Linked DNA regions of Homo sapiens: regions 2 and 3 are each linked to region 1. Evidence: fine-mapped expression QTL. A gene starts in region 1. Each other region holds a variant in brackets. All regions are shown on one strand. Distances are between the middles of the regions.

What was found. PIP is the estimated chance that this variant, and not a neighbour inherited with it, causes the effect.
Region 2: its variant is the best candidate, but not a certain one, in a credible set for the expression of PIWIL2 in breast (GTEx, PIP 0.62).
Region 3: its variant is the best candidate, but not a certain one, in a credible set for the expression of PIWIL2 in substantia nigra (Braineac2, PIP 0.68).

Annotation. Positions count from the first base shown.
Region 1 is chr8:22,273,285-22,277,638 of GRCh38, forward strand. PIWIL2 (piwi like RNA-mediated gene silencing 2) reads left to right here and starts at 2,032. Exons shown (of 23, transcript NM_018068.5): 1 at 2,032-2,114. It overlaps PIWIL2-DT (PIWIL2 divergent transcript), which reads right to left and starts at 1,878. Exons shown (of 2, transcript NR_134293.1): 1 at 1,695-1,878. RefSeq lists an enhancer at 2,312-2,957.
Region 2 is chr8:22,343,366-22,347,365 of GRCh38, forward strand. All of the region lies in intron 20 of PIWIL2 (piwi like RNA-mediated gene silencing 2), which reads left to right. Among named protein-coding and RNA genes, the nearest start is that of SLC39A14, 22 kb to the right of the region's middle. The variant T/A (reference allele first, on the strand shown) is at 2,306.
Region 3 is chr8:22,317,257-22,321,256 of GRCh38, forward strand. It overlaps PIWIL2 (piwi like RNA-mediated gene silencing 2), which reads left to right. Exons shown (of 23, transcript NM_018068.5): 20 at 914-1,019. Among named protein-coding and RNA genes, the nearest start is that of PIWIL2, 44 kb to the left of the region's middle. RefSeq lists an enhancer at 1,316-1,485 and a cis regulatory region at 1,401. The variant A/T (reference allele first, on the strand shown) is at 2,475.

The sequences.
Region 1 (4,354 bases):
TCTGAACAGCAGCAACAACAACAACAACAAACCAGAATACATGGTTGGAATAGAAATATTTATGGTGACCAAGTGCCCAGGGTATTTGGAGTCATGACTGCCTAGGAAAATTCAGGTTATGTATAGTTATGGGGCCATTTTCACTCTGAATTTTAGAGACTGGCAGGGCCAGGTGGACAGAATTTGGTGTTACGACTTTTTTGAGTTAAAAAAAAAATCTGTGATTTATCTCAAAATACTATCTCTTAGTGTGATATACGTGCTCTTTTTGCCCCTTTCATTTTTAATTAACAAATAGCAATTACATATGGTTATGTGGTACAGTATGATATTCTGATATTTATTTACATTGTGGAATGATTAAACCAAATTAACATATCCATCACCTCACATACTCATCTTTTTGTGATGAGATTATGTGTGTCCTTTTTAATCAATATCCTAGGGATGGCTAATTAACAATTAAAGTACTCTGTTAGGGAATATAATCTCCAAAAGAGGTTGATTAGCTTTTGAAAGGTCCTAAATAGATGTCCACGTTTCAGAAAGCTTCAACCATTTTTATGTCCAATCAACAGCAGGACTATATGGATTTTCCTTTGGTTAAATAAGTAGTGTTAATGATGTCTGGATTAGCTAGAAATACTGTACGAAGGCCACCTACACTTGCATGGATGGACAGGATATAGAAATCTAGGAAACCCAATGTGCATACCCTTTGTAATGGTGCTCTTGGTTTAGGTTCCCAAATAGAAGACATACTCAGGAAATTATCTGAGGATTATTATTCCCTTACTTCAACTAGAAGATTTGCTGAATCCTGCCCCCAAAATATTGTTTCATGTGTATAGAATAAGTGTGTCATGCAAAGTTTGGTCGGAGTTCCTAAAAGAACAAGGAGTTGGATCTTCACGAAAGTTACAAAACAGTTTGTATAACTGTTTTTGACTGCACTTGCTACCATTAAGTATTTGCACAGGCAGGAGAATTGCTTACAACATAACATTGCAACAGCTGCAAGTTAAGAAGGTTGTGTGGTAAAGGAAGTGAAAATGTTAGATCATGGTAAACAAATACTATCTAGGAACAGTGAAGGGGCATCGTGCCAACTGGATTCCTGAGTTGAAAATCATCCTGCTCCAATAATTTTCAGACTATCCTCATTCGGGAAGGATAGGGAGGGCCCTTGTATGTGTGGATTAAAATAAGTCATGGGATATCTGAGGCCTGGAAAAAATAAGGTTAACCCTTCTCTAGTCCTATTCCATGCAGAGCCCTTGGATGTCTCTATAGCATCCGCCAAAGCCTTCAGAAGCTTTACCTCAACCACACTGTAAAACCTGGGTGTGGGAGAGGGATGCAGTTATTTGACAAAATGGTTGGGAGAGGGTCAGAAATCTTTCTTTGGGTAAAATCATTCTGTAGTTGCTGAAGTAACCACTGATAATTTAATCTGCTTCCTAGAAAGCTCTTCTTGGCTCACAGATTTAGGCATCAATAAAAATAGGCAACATTTATCGAGGGTCGTCTTCTCCTTGTGCTAAGTATTTTACATACGTTATGTCATTATGTGTGTACATTTCCATTCAACCCTATGAATGGATGTTTTTAGTTTTTATCTCTGTTTTATGTATAACGAAAGTGATGTGCAGAAATCATATGAATTAGGTGTTTGAATGCGCACTCGAGCTTACCGTTTCTTTTTCACCACCTGTATCGCTAATCCTCTTAACTGGCAGGAATGGGGCAAGTCAATTTCAACACGCGAGTCTTAGGCTAAATCTGTTTATAGGAGTTGCCCCCAGAAAGGGAGTCAGGATCTCCAAACCCTAACACATTTTAACGCTGAGGTTCACATAACTCCCAGCGCTCCTTCCGCACGAACCGCCCCTGCACAGGGAACCTGCTGGAAAGGACGAGCCTCTCTTGCAGATGGGCCAATTAGATAGCTTGCTCTTGTGAACGACAGGTCTTGTGGCCAATGGGCTCATCCCCGGAGGCCTCGAAGAGCGGAAATTGGCCCTGGAGCATGTGGGCCCCGGGGCGTGGGTTGAGCTCGGTCTTCCCCTGAGGCCGCGCGGAGCTGGGCGACTGGGGCGAGGACTCGCGCACAGGTGAGTACTGGCCCCGGTTGCGGCATGCCAGGCAGGCCAGGGTCGCTCGGGGGCGGGCAGGTTGGGTTTTTGCTCAAGCACGTGGGGTGAGCCGCCCTCCCGGGCCTCTCCCCTCCCACTTCGGGGAGCTGCTGAGGGTTGCGGGTCGGGCGGGGGCGGGAAGTCGTTATTCGAGGCCCGGCGCCGCGGCCCCAAGAAGGTGTCCAGGTTGGGGCGGCAGGGGAGGCCCTCCGGAGGCCCAAGTGGACGTCTTATTTGGCCTGAGAGAGGAGATAGAACCCCTGGCAGGGCTGTGGCTTTGGGGAAAGGTGCTTTTCTCGGGGTGGAAAGGGGATGGGACTCGCCTTCGGGGGCCTTGCTTCTGGTTAGGCCCGAGTCGCGAGGCCTCAGCGCGGAGCACGCACCCAGGGATGCGAGGGAGGCAGGCCCAGCCCGTCCTGGGTTCGCTCCCCATTGAACCTTTCGGACAGCCAAGTATCTGCTACCTGATCCCAGGGGGAAACCCACACTGGGAGAGGGCCCTCTGGGGGAGCTACCTGAATCTATAGAAGTGGTGCTGGAGGTTGAGGGAAGCGTGGACAAAGAGGAAGATTCCAGATGTCCCTTAAGGGAGGCCGTCCAGCGCTTCTGAGTATGTAGCTGTTAGCATACTGATTGCTTGGGATTCTTTGGGTGGTGTTGGGGAGGTGTGAGCAGAGTCCTGGCTCACCGAAAAGGGGTGTTAGCAGTTAAATATAGCCTTCAAGAAAGGGAGTCATATCCTGCGTTTAGAGTGTGAAAGAGGATAGTTTAGTTCAATAAATTTTGCAAGTTCCTGAACTGTCTGCACTTACGCTGTGGGTTTATGAATTGTGTGTTAATATTTTCTTTAAATGTATGATTTCTCTGTAGCTAATACTTAAGACAGCTTTTTTGTTTGTTTGTTTGTTTGTTTTGAGACGGAGTCTCGCTCCGTAGCGCAGGCTGGAGTGCAGTGGCGTGATCTCTGCTCACTGCAACCTCCGCCTCCCAGGTTCAAGCGATTCTCCTGCCTCTGCCTCCCGAGTAGCTGGGATTACAGGCGCAGGCCACCATGCCCAGCTAATTTTTGTATTTTTAGTAGAGATGAGGGTTCACCATTTTGGTCAGGCTGGTCTCGAACCCCTGACCTTGTGATCTGCCCACCTTGGCCTTCCAGAGTGCTGGGATTACAGGCGCGAGCCACCACCCCCGGCCAAGACAGCTTTTTGAAAGTTAAGAAGAGGCTTCTCCCAGCATTTGGGGAGTCTGAGGTGAGAGGATCACTTGAGGTCAGCAGTTTGAGACCAGCCTGGGCAACATGGCAAGATCCCGTCTCTACAAATTTTTTTTAAAAATTAGCTGGGTATGGTGGCAGGTGCCTGAAGTCCTAGCTACTTGGGAGGCTGAGACAAGAGGACTGCTTGAGCACAGGAGGTTGAGACTGCAGTGAGCTAAGATGCCACCACTTCACTGTAGCCTGGATGACAGAACAAGACCCTGTCTCTTAAAAAAAAAAAATTCTTTTCCGTTAAGAAATATTTTTCAGGAATCAGGGGCAAGTCAGGACAATGAGAGGAGCCCCTTAAAGAGGGAGTCTTGAAATCTGTAGGTTATAAAGTGATATATATATATATATTTTTTTTTTTGAGACAGAATCTTGTGCTGTCACCCAGGCTGGAGTGCCACGATCTTGACTCACTGCAACCTCCGCCTCCTGGGTTCAAGCAATTCTTGTGCCTCAGACTCCTGAGGAGGGGGGATTACAGGCATGCACCACCATGCCTGGCTAATTTTTGTATTTTTAGTAAAGACAGGGTTTCATCATGTTTGCCACGCTGCTCTTGAGCTCCTGATCTCAAGTGATCCACCCGCCTCGGCCTCCCAAAGTGCTGTGATTACAGGCATGGGCCACCATGCCCGACCTACAGGTTATGAAGTGATTTTGAAGAGACCTGATGGGCTTTAGATTTGGTAGGGAAGCCAGGGAGAGCCTCACCCCGGGTAACCTGGGAGAGAGAAGGGTGTTAAATGCAACCTGTGAGACTGAGCAAGTATTGTAGGCTCAAAGCAGAAAGACTGTGTACTCTGGAGACTTCTGATGGAGTTTGAAAGAAGAGAGTTTTTAAAATTTTTTTTTCTATTTTTTAATTATTTGTAGAGACAGGGTCTCGTTGTGTTCCTAAGACTGGCCTCAAACTCCTGGCCTCAATGGTCCTCCCACCTGGGCCTCCCAGAGTGCT
Region 2 (4,000 bases), 70 kb after region 1:
CAGAGGCTGCAGTGAGCCGAGATTGTGCCATTGCACTCCAGCCTGGGCAGCAAGAGCGAAACTCCATCTCAAAAAAAAAAAAATTAGCTGGGCATGGTGGCGCATGCCTGTAATCCTAGCTACTCAGGAGGCTGAGGCAGGAGAACTGCTTGAACCAAGGAGGCAGAGGTTGCAGTGAGCTGAGATTGTACCACTGCACTTCAGCCTGGGTGACAGAGCGAGACTCCGTCTCAAAAATAGGTAGATAGATAGATGGCAAATTAGCATACAAGCAGGTGTTCAATATCACTTGCCCTTAGGGAACTGCAAATTAAAACAATCAGATACCACTACACACCTATAAATGATCAGAATTCAAAAACTGGTAATGCCAAATGCTGGTGAGGGTGTAGAGCCATAGGAACGCTCACTCACGGCTGGTGAGAATGGAAATGGTACAACCACTTTGCAAAACAGTTTGGCAGCTAATTACTAAACTAAATGTGCACTTACATACACATACCAACAATCACGCTCCTTGATATTTTCCCAAATAAGTTGAAAACTTACGCCCACACAAAAACTTGCACGTGAATGTTTGTAGCAACTTTATTCATTACTGCCAGAACTTGGAAACAGAGATGTCCTTCAGTAGGTGAGTGGATAAACTGTCATGCATCCAGACAATGGAATATTGTGTTAAAAGAAATAAGCCATTAAGCCATGAAAAGACATGGAGGAATCTTAAATACATATTGCTCAGTGAAAGATGGTAATCTGAAAAGGCTTTATATGATTCTAACTGTATGATAAATGGCATTCTAGAGAATGCATAAATGTGGTGACAGTAAAAAGTGGCTGTCAAGGGTTTGGAAGGGGGAGAAAGGAATAGGTGGCACACAGGATTTTTAGGGCACTGAAACTAGATAACATTATGCATTTGTCAAAACCCATAGAACTGTACAACACAAATATGTAAACTGTGGAGTATAGTTAATGTATCAACATTTGGTCATCAGTTGTAACAAGTGTACCATAATGCAATATGATAACAAAAGGGGAAACTGTTTATGGGTGGGGATAGGAGGTGGGAGGAGGGCATATGGGAACTCTGTTCTATTGCCTCAGGTTTTTTTGTAAACTTGAAGATTCCTCTAAAAAATAGTCTCTTAATTTAAAAACATACAGACACACAATGAGGTACCATATCGTATGCACGAGGATATCTAAAATTTAAAAGAGGCCAGGTATGATGGCTCATGCCTGTAATCCCAGCTCTTTGTGAGGTCAAGGTGGGAGGATTGCTTGAGCCCAGGAGTTTGAGACTGCCTGGGCCACATAGGGAGACCCCTATCTCTACAAAAATAAAAAATGAAAATAAATTATCTGGTCATGATGGTACACATCTGTGGTCCCAGCTACTCAAGAGGCTGAAGTGGGAAGATGACTTGAGCCTGGGAGGTCAAGGCTGCAGTGAGCCGTGATTGTGCCGCTGCACTCCAGCCTTGGTGACAGAGTAAGACCCTTTTAAAGAAAAGATTAAAATAAAATTTAAAAGACAAGTAATAAAAGTCTTGTCCAGGACATGGAGAAATTGGAAACTTCATAGATTGCTAATGGGATTGTAAAATAAAATAATGCAGCTACTTTGGAAAACAGTTGGGCAGTTCCTTAAAAAGTTAAGCATGCCGGGCTTAGAGGTGCAAGCCTGTGGTCCCAGCTACTCTTAAAGATAAGGTGGAAGAGTCACTTGAACCCGGGAGTTTAAGGCTATAGTGTGTGAGGATCACACCTGTGAATAGCCACAATACTCCAGCCAGGGCAACATAGACTCCATATGTAAAATAAAATAAAAATCAAAGTTAAACAGATTTACCACATGACCCAAGAATTCTAGTCCTAGGTATGTACCCAAGAAAATTGAAAACATTGTGTACCCAAGAAAATTGAAAACACAAGTCCACACAAAAACTTATACACAAATGTTCGTAGCAACATTATTCATAATGGCCAGAAATTGAAATAATACAAATGGGCCAGGCGCAGTGGCTCACACCTATAATCCCAGCACTTTGGGAGGCTGAGGCGGGCGGATCACTTGAGGCCAGGGATTTGAGACCAGCCTGGGCAACATGGCGAAACCGCATCTCTAGTAAAAATACAAAAACAATTAGCTGGGCATGGTGGTGTGCACCTGTAATCCCAGCTACTAGGGAGGCTGAGGCAGGAGAATTGCTTGAACCCAGGAGGCAGAGGTGGCAGTGAGCTGAGATTGCACCACTGCACTCCAGCCTGGGTGACAGAGCAAGACTCTGTCTCAAAAATA[T/A]AATGAAATAATTTTAAAAACCCACAAATGTCCACAAATTGATGAATGGACAAACAAAATGTGACATATGCATATAATGGAATACTATTCTGCAATAAGGAACGAAGGACTGAGACGTACTGCAACATGGATGAACTGTGAAAACGTTATGTTTAGTGAAATTTATTTAAACATAAAAAAGTTTATGATTTTATTTGTCTAGTATAGTCCAACCCATGGAGACAAAGCGCATTAGTAGGTTCTAGGAGTCAAAGGAAGGAGGCACTGGGGGACTGACTGCCAATGGGTATGGGATTAAAATCTTTTGGGGTGATCAATATGTTCTAAAATTAGATAGTGGTGATGGTTTCAAAATTCTGAAAGTAATAAAAAACCATTTAATTGTATAGTTTAAGTGGGTGAGTTTGGCCAGGCGTGCTGGCTCACATCTGTAATCCCAGAGCTTTGGGAGGCCAAAGTGGGAGTATTGCTTGAGGCCAGGAGTTCAAGGCTGCAGTGAGCTTTGATCACACCACTGCACTCAGGCCTGGGCAACGCAGTGAGACCTTGTCTCTAAAAATAATAATAGTAAAGTAAATAAAAGGATGAGTTTTATGGTATTTCGAACTATATTTCAATAAAGCTGTTCAAAATAAAAAGCACTCCTCCACCTCACAGCTTTTTAGTTCCCGTGGTGGAATCAGCAGCCCTGCCAGGGAAGAATGCCTTCGCATGCTTGGCTGATTCCCCTGGGCCCCATCCTTCCTCCTCTGATGCTGGGATGCATCTAAGGCCTTCGCAAACTACATGTTTTCATATTTTGCCCAGCTTTTCCAGTTGTCCTGAGTTGTAGGGCTTCTCAGAATTCATGGTTCACCACCTGAAGCCTCCCAGACAGTCTTAAGCTCACATGTGATTTATTTAATATCTGTATTTAGATTTGTAGCTCTAGTTCAGGAGTTCTCAAAATTTTTGATATTAGGGCCCCTTTATATTCTTAAATATTATTGAAGGCCCCAAAGAGTTTTTATTTATATGGATACATATCTGTCAATAATTAGCATATTAGAAGGTAAAAATTTCAATGTTTATTAATTTACTTAGAAATAACAATAAGCCAGGCATAGTGGTGCATGCCTGTAGGCGCAGCTACTCAGGAGGCTGAGGTGGCAGGATCTTCTGAGTTCAGGTGTTTGAGACCAGCTTGGGCAACATAGCAAGATCCATCTCTAAGGAAAATTTTTAGTTGGGCATAGCCGCTCGTGGCTGTAATCCCAACACTGGGAGGACGAGGTAGGAGGAGCACTTGAGCCCAGGAGTTCAAGACCAGCCTGGACAACATAGACCTCATATGTATAAAAAAATTTTTAAGTTAGCTGGGTATGGTAGTATATGCCTGTAGTCTCAGCTACTCAGGAGGCTGAGGTAAGAGGATTGCTTGAGTTCAGGAAGTTCAGACTGCATGAGCCATCATCACACCATTTTACTCCAGCCTGGGCAACAGAGCAAGACGTTGTCTCAAAAAAAAAAAAAAAAAAGTAGCAAATTCAGCACATTAACATAATTTTTTTTTTTTTTTTTGAGACAGAGTCTCACTCTGTCACCCAGGCTGGACTGCAGTGGTGTGCTCTCGGCTCACTGTGCAAGCTCCCCTTCCCGGGCTCACGCCATTCTCCTGCCTCAGCCTCCCGAGTAGCTGGGACTACAGGTGCCCGC
Region 3 (4,000 bases), 44 kb after region 1:
GAAATTGAGAAAGTGAGAATTCCTCATGGTCCAGCTTTTATTCATATTAACAGTTGCCAAAGGTTTGATGTATATATACTTTCAGATTCTCTTCTATGCCTATATTAACACATACATGTGATATATATCTCTGAAACACACACACACACATATATATATTTGTACAAATGGGATATTGCTAGGCATACTATTCCTTAGCTTAATATGCAGTTAAACTGTACATTTTCCTGTATCATTACAAATAAATCTCCACCAACTCAACTGCTGCTCAGAATTTATTCTGTGTATCATTATTTAACCAATCCTCTCTTGGTGGATATCTTAAGTTGTTAAATTTTTTCTATTGGAGCAGTTTTTGTAGGAAATATCCACAATTACACTTTTTTTAAATTTTTTATTTATTTATTTATTTATTTTTTTTGAGACAGAGTCTCGCTCTGTCGCCCAGGCTGGAATGCAATGGCACAGTCTCAGCTCACTGCAAGCTCCGCCTCCCAGGTTCACGCCATTCTCCTGCCTCAGCCTCCCGAGTAGCTGGGACTACAGGTGTCCGCCACCACGCCCGGCTAATTTTTTTTGTACTTTTAGTAGAGACGGGGTTTCACCGTGTTAGCCAGGATGGTCTCGATCTCCTGACCTCGTGATCTGTCCACCTTGGCCTCCCAAAGTGCTGAGATTACAGGCATGAGCCACCGCGCTCTGCCACAATTACACGTTTTTATGTTCTGCATATGACTTAAATATGTCTTTTCTCCATGTCACTGCTTGTTCTTACATATAAATGCATTTTCTAGGTACTTGTTTTTGGATTGATTGGTAGAGAAACCTGTGTTACTGACATAAGCCATAGGCTGTCCCCTTCGAGCATTTGTTCATCTTCCTTTCTCTGTCTCTCTGCTCACCCTGACCCTAGCACCCTCACAAAATGGTATTCCCGGGTGGTGTTCCAGATGCCGCATCAGGAGATTGTGGACAGCCTGAAGCTATGCCTCGTGGGCTCCTTAAAAAAGTTTTATGAGGTGAGGAGAACAGAAATTCTCAGGCTTCTGGGGTTTTTTGTTTTTTTATTTTTTTTTTTGAGACAGAGTCTCACTCTTGTCGCCCAGGTTGGAGTGCAGTGGTGCGATCTCTGTTCACTGCAACCTCTGCCTCCTGGGTTCAAGCGGTTCTCCTGCCTCAGCCTTCCAAGTAGCTGGGATTACAGGCGTGCACCAGCACGTCCAGTTAATTTCTGTATTTTTAGTAGAGATGTGGTTTCACCATGTTGGCCAGGCTGGTTTCGAACTCCTGACCTCAGGTGATCTGCCTGCCTGGGCCTCCCAAAGTGTTGGGATTACAGCTGTGAGCCACCGCGCCTGGCCAAGTTTCTGGGATTTTAAGGATTACCTATGTGAACACTTTACAGGAAGTCTGATGTGGTGAGAGGGATCTCAAATCAAAGGTGAGTCTCCTAAACAGCTGCTACTGAGCAGGCAGCTCAGAGCTCCTCCTTTCAGGCTTCAGCTTGTACAGATCAGCTTAAAGAGCTAAATGCTTTCATTTGGTTTAGTAAGTAATAATTTTTTCTCAGGTTGTCAGCCTGATGTCTCTAGACATAATCTTCATGCCCTTATCGGGGAAGTTGGGGATAAGTTTCAGCAATTAAAGCAGCTTATGAGTGTACTCAGCTTTTTATAACTTATTAGGCGCTGGCTCTTTTCATTTTGGTTCAAGACAAATGCCTCCTTATAAATCACCCCTCGAACTCTAAAGAATGCTAACCATGGAGGATTGCTATAATTAAGCTGATACTGGATCTAGAACAGTGAGCAAGCAAGGTACTGATTTCTGCCTTGGCCAGTACATCAAAGGAAGCACTGATAAGTGCCTTTCATTTCTTAGGGTCAGGGTTAGACCTTAACCTTTGCATAGAGGCTAAGCAGCAAGAAATGTCGTAATTTCATATGATTGAACTCAGTCTCTAAGGCTCCACCTTGTCTCTTTATAGAATAATGTTTCCTATAGCATCCTGCAAATACTTTAATACTGTTCAGTTATTAGAGGTTATTTTTTTTTAAAGTCTGTCTCCAGCAAGGTCCATATGTTATGCTACTGAGTCACCAAGTTCTACCAGACTTTCCTTTTTGTTGTTGTTCTAATTGTTTTCCTTCGAAGTTTGATCTGTCTTCTAATACCTATCTGTGAAGACTTTTCCCTTCTTCCCTCACTGCTCCATTCTTAAGCTGCCTTATATTTGTTATTTATCCATCCCACTGGGTTGTATCCTTATTTATGCATCCCACTGGGTTGTAAATTACTTGAACACTGGTTGTGGATGGCTATGTAGCAAATTACCCTGAAACTTAGTGGCATGAAATGAGCAAGTTTGATGTTCACAATCAGGAACTGGACAAGGCACAGCCGAGGGCTCCATTTCTCCATGTGGGCCTTGTTGTATGGTCTTTTCACATGGGCTCTTTGGGCCTCCTCCTTGC[A/T]TGCTGGCTGGATTCAAAGCCTGAATGTTCCACAAGACAGAGTGCTGGTGGAAGTCATGCTGCATTTTATGCCTTAACTGTGGAAGTAATGCAGTATCACTTCTGCTGCATTCTAATTGTCCAAGGAGTCACAAAGTCCCACCCAGCTTTGAGGGGAGGGCAGTTGATTCCACCTTCTAATCCAAGGGTGGCAAGGGTCTGAAAGAACATGTGGCACCAGAGATATTGCTGTGGCTATTTTCTTTTTTTGAGACAGGGTCTCACTCTGGTTGCCCAGGCTGGAGTGCAGTGGCACAATCTCGGCTCACTGCAACCTCTGCCTCCCAGGCTCAAGCGATTCTCCTGCCTCAGCCTCCTGAATAGCTGGGATTATAGGCATGTGACACCACACCTGGCTAATTTTTGTATTTTTAGTAGAGACAGGGTTTCGGCGTCTTGGCCAGGCTGGTCTTGAACTCCTGACCTCATGATCCACGCTTCTCAGCCTCCCAAAGTGCTAGGATTACAGGTGTGAGCTGCTGCGCCCGGCTTTTTTTTTTTTTTTTTTTTTTGAGACGGAGTCTCACTCTGTAACCCAGGCTGGAGTACAGTGGCGCAATCTCAGCTTACCACAACCTCTGTCTGCTTCCCGGATTCAAGCAATTCAACTGCCTCAGCCTCCCGAGTAGCTGGGATTACCTGCATGTGCCACAAGACCCAGGTAATTTTTTTTTTTATTTTTAGTAGAGACGGGGTTTTGCCATGTTGGCCAGACTGGGCTGGTCTCGAACTCTTAATCTCAAGTGATCCGCCCGCCTCAGCCTCTCAAAGTGCTGAGATTATAGGTGTGAGCCACCATGTCTGGCCTGCTGTGGCCATTTTCTTTTCTTCTTTTTTTGAGACGGAATTTCACTCTTATTGCCCAGGCTGAAGTGCAATGGCACAATCTGGGCTCACTGCAGCCTCCGCCTCCCGGGTTCAAGCAATTCTCCTGCCTCAGCCTCCCATGTAGCTGGGATTACAGGTGCCCGCCACCACGCCTGGCTAATTTTTTTGCATTTTTAGTAGAGATGGGGTTTTGCCACGTTGGCCAGGCTGGTCTCAAACTCCTGACCTCAGGTGATCCACCCCCCTCAGCCTCTCAAAGTGCTGGGATTATAGGCGTGAGCCACCGTGCCTAGCCACTGTGGCTATTTTGTAAAAGTGCAGTCTGCTGCAAGCACAGGGACTGTCTTGATTCCTTTTCCATCTCTTACACTACTAAGCTGACACTCCTGGTGATTTACGTTGAATTTCTAGTATCACAATTCTATTCTAAGTCAATTAACAGTTTGTTTTGGTCTCTGTTTCTTTATCTGAACTATGAACTTAAGTAGTATTTATTAAATTCTGTAGAACCAGATCAAAGAAAAAATAAATTTGTTTTTAAATCTAGAATAAAACTGGCTCATCTGAATATAAATGTTCTCTGAATCAAAAGAATTTTTTTTTTTTTGAGACAGGTTCTTGCTCTGCCTCATCCTCCAGAGTAGCAGGGACTACAGGCA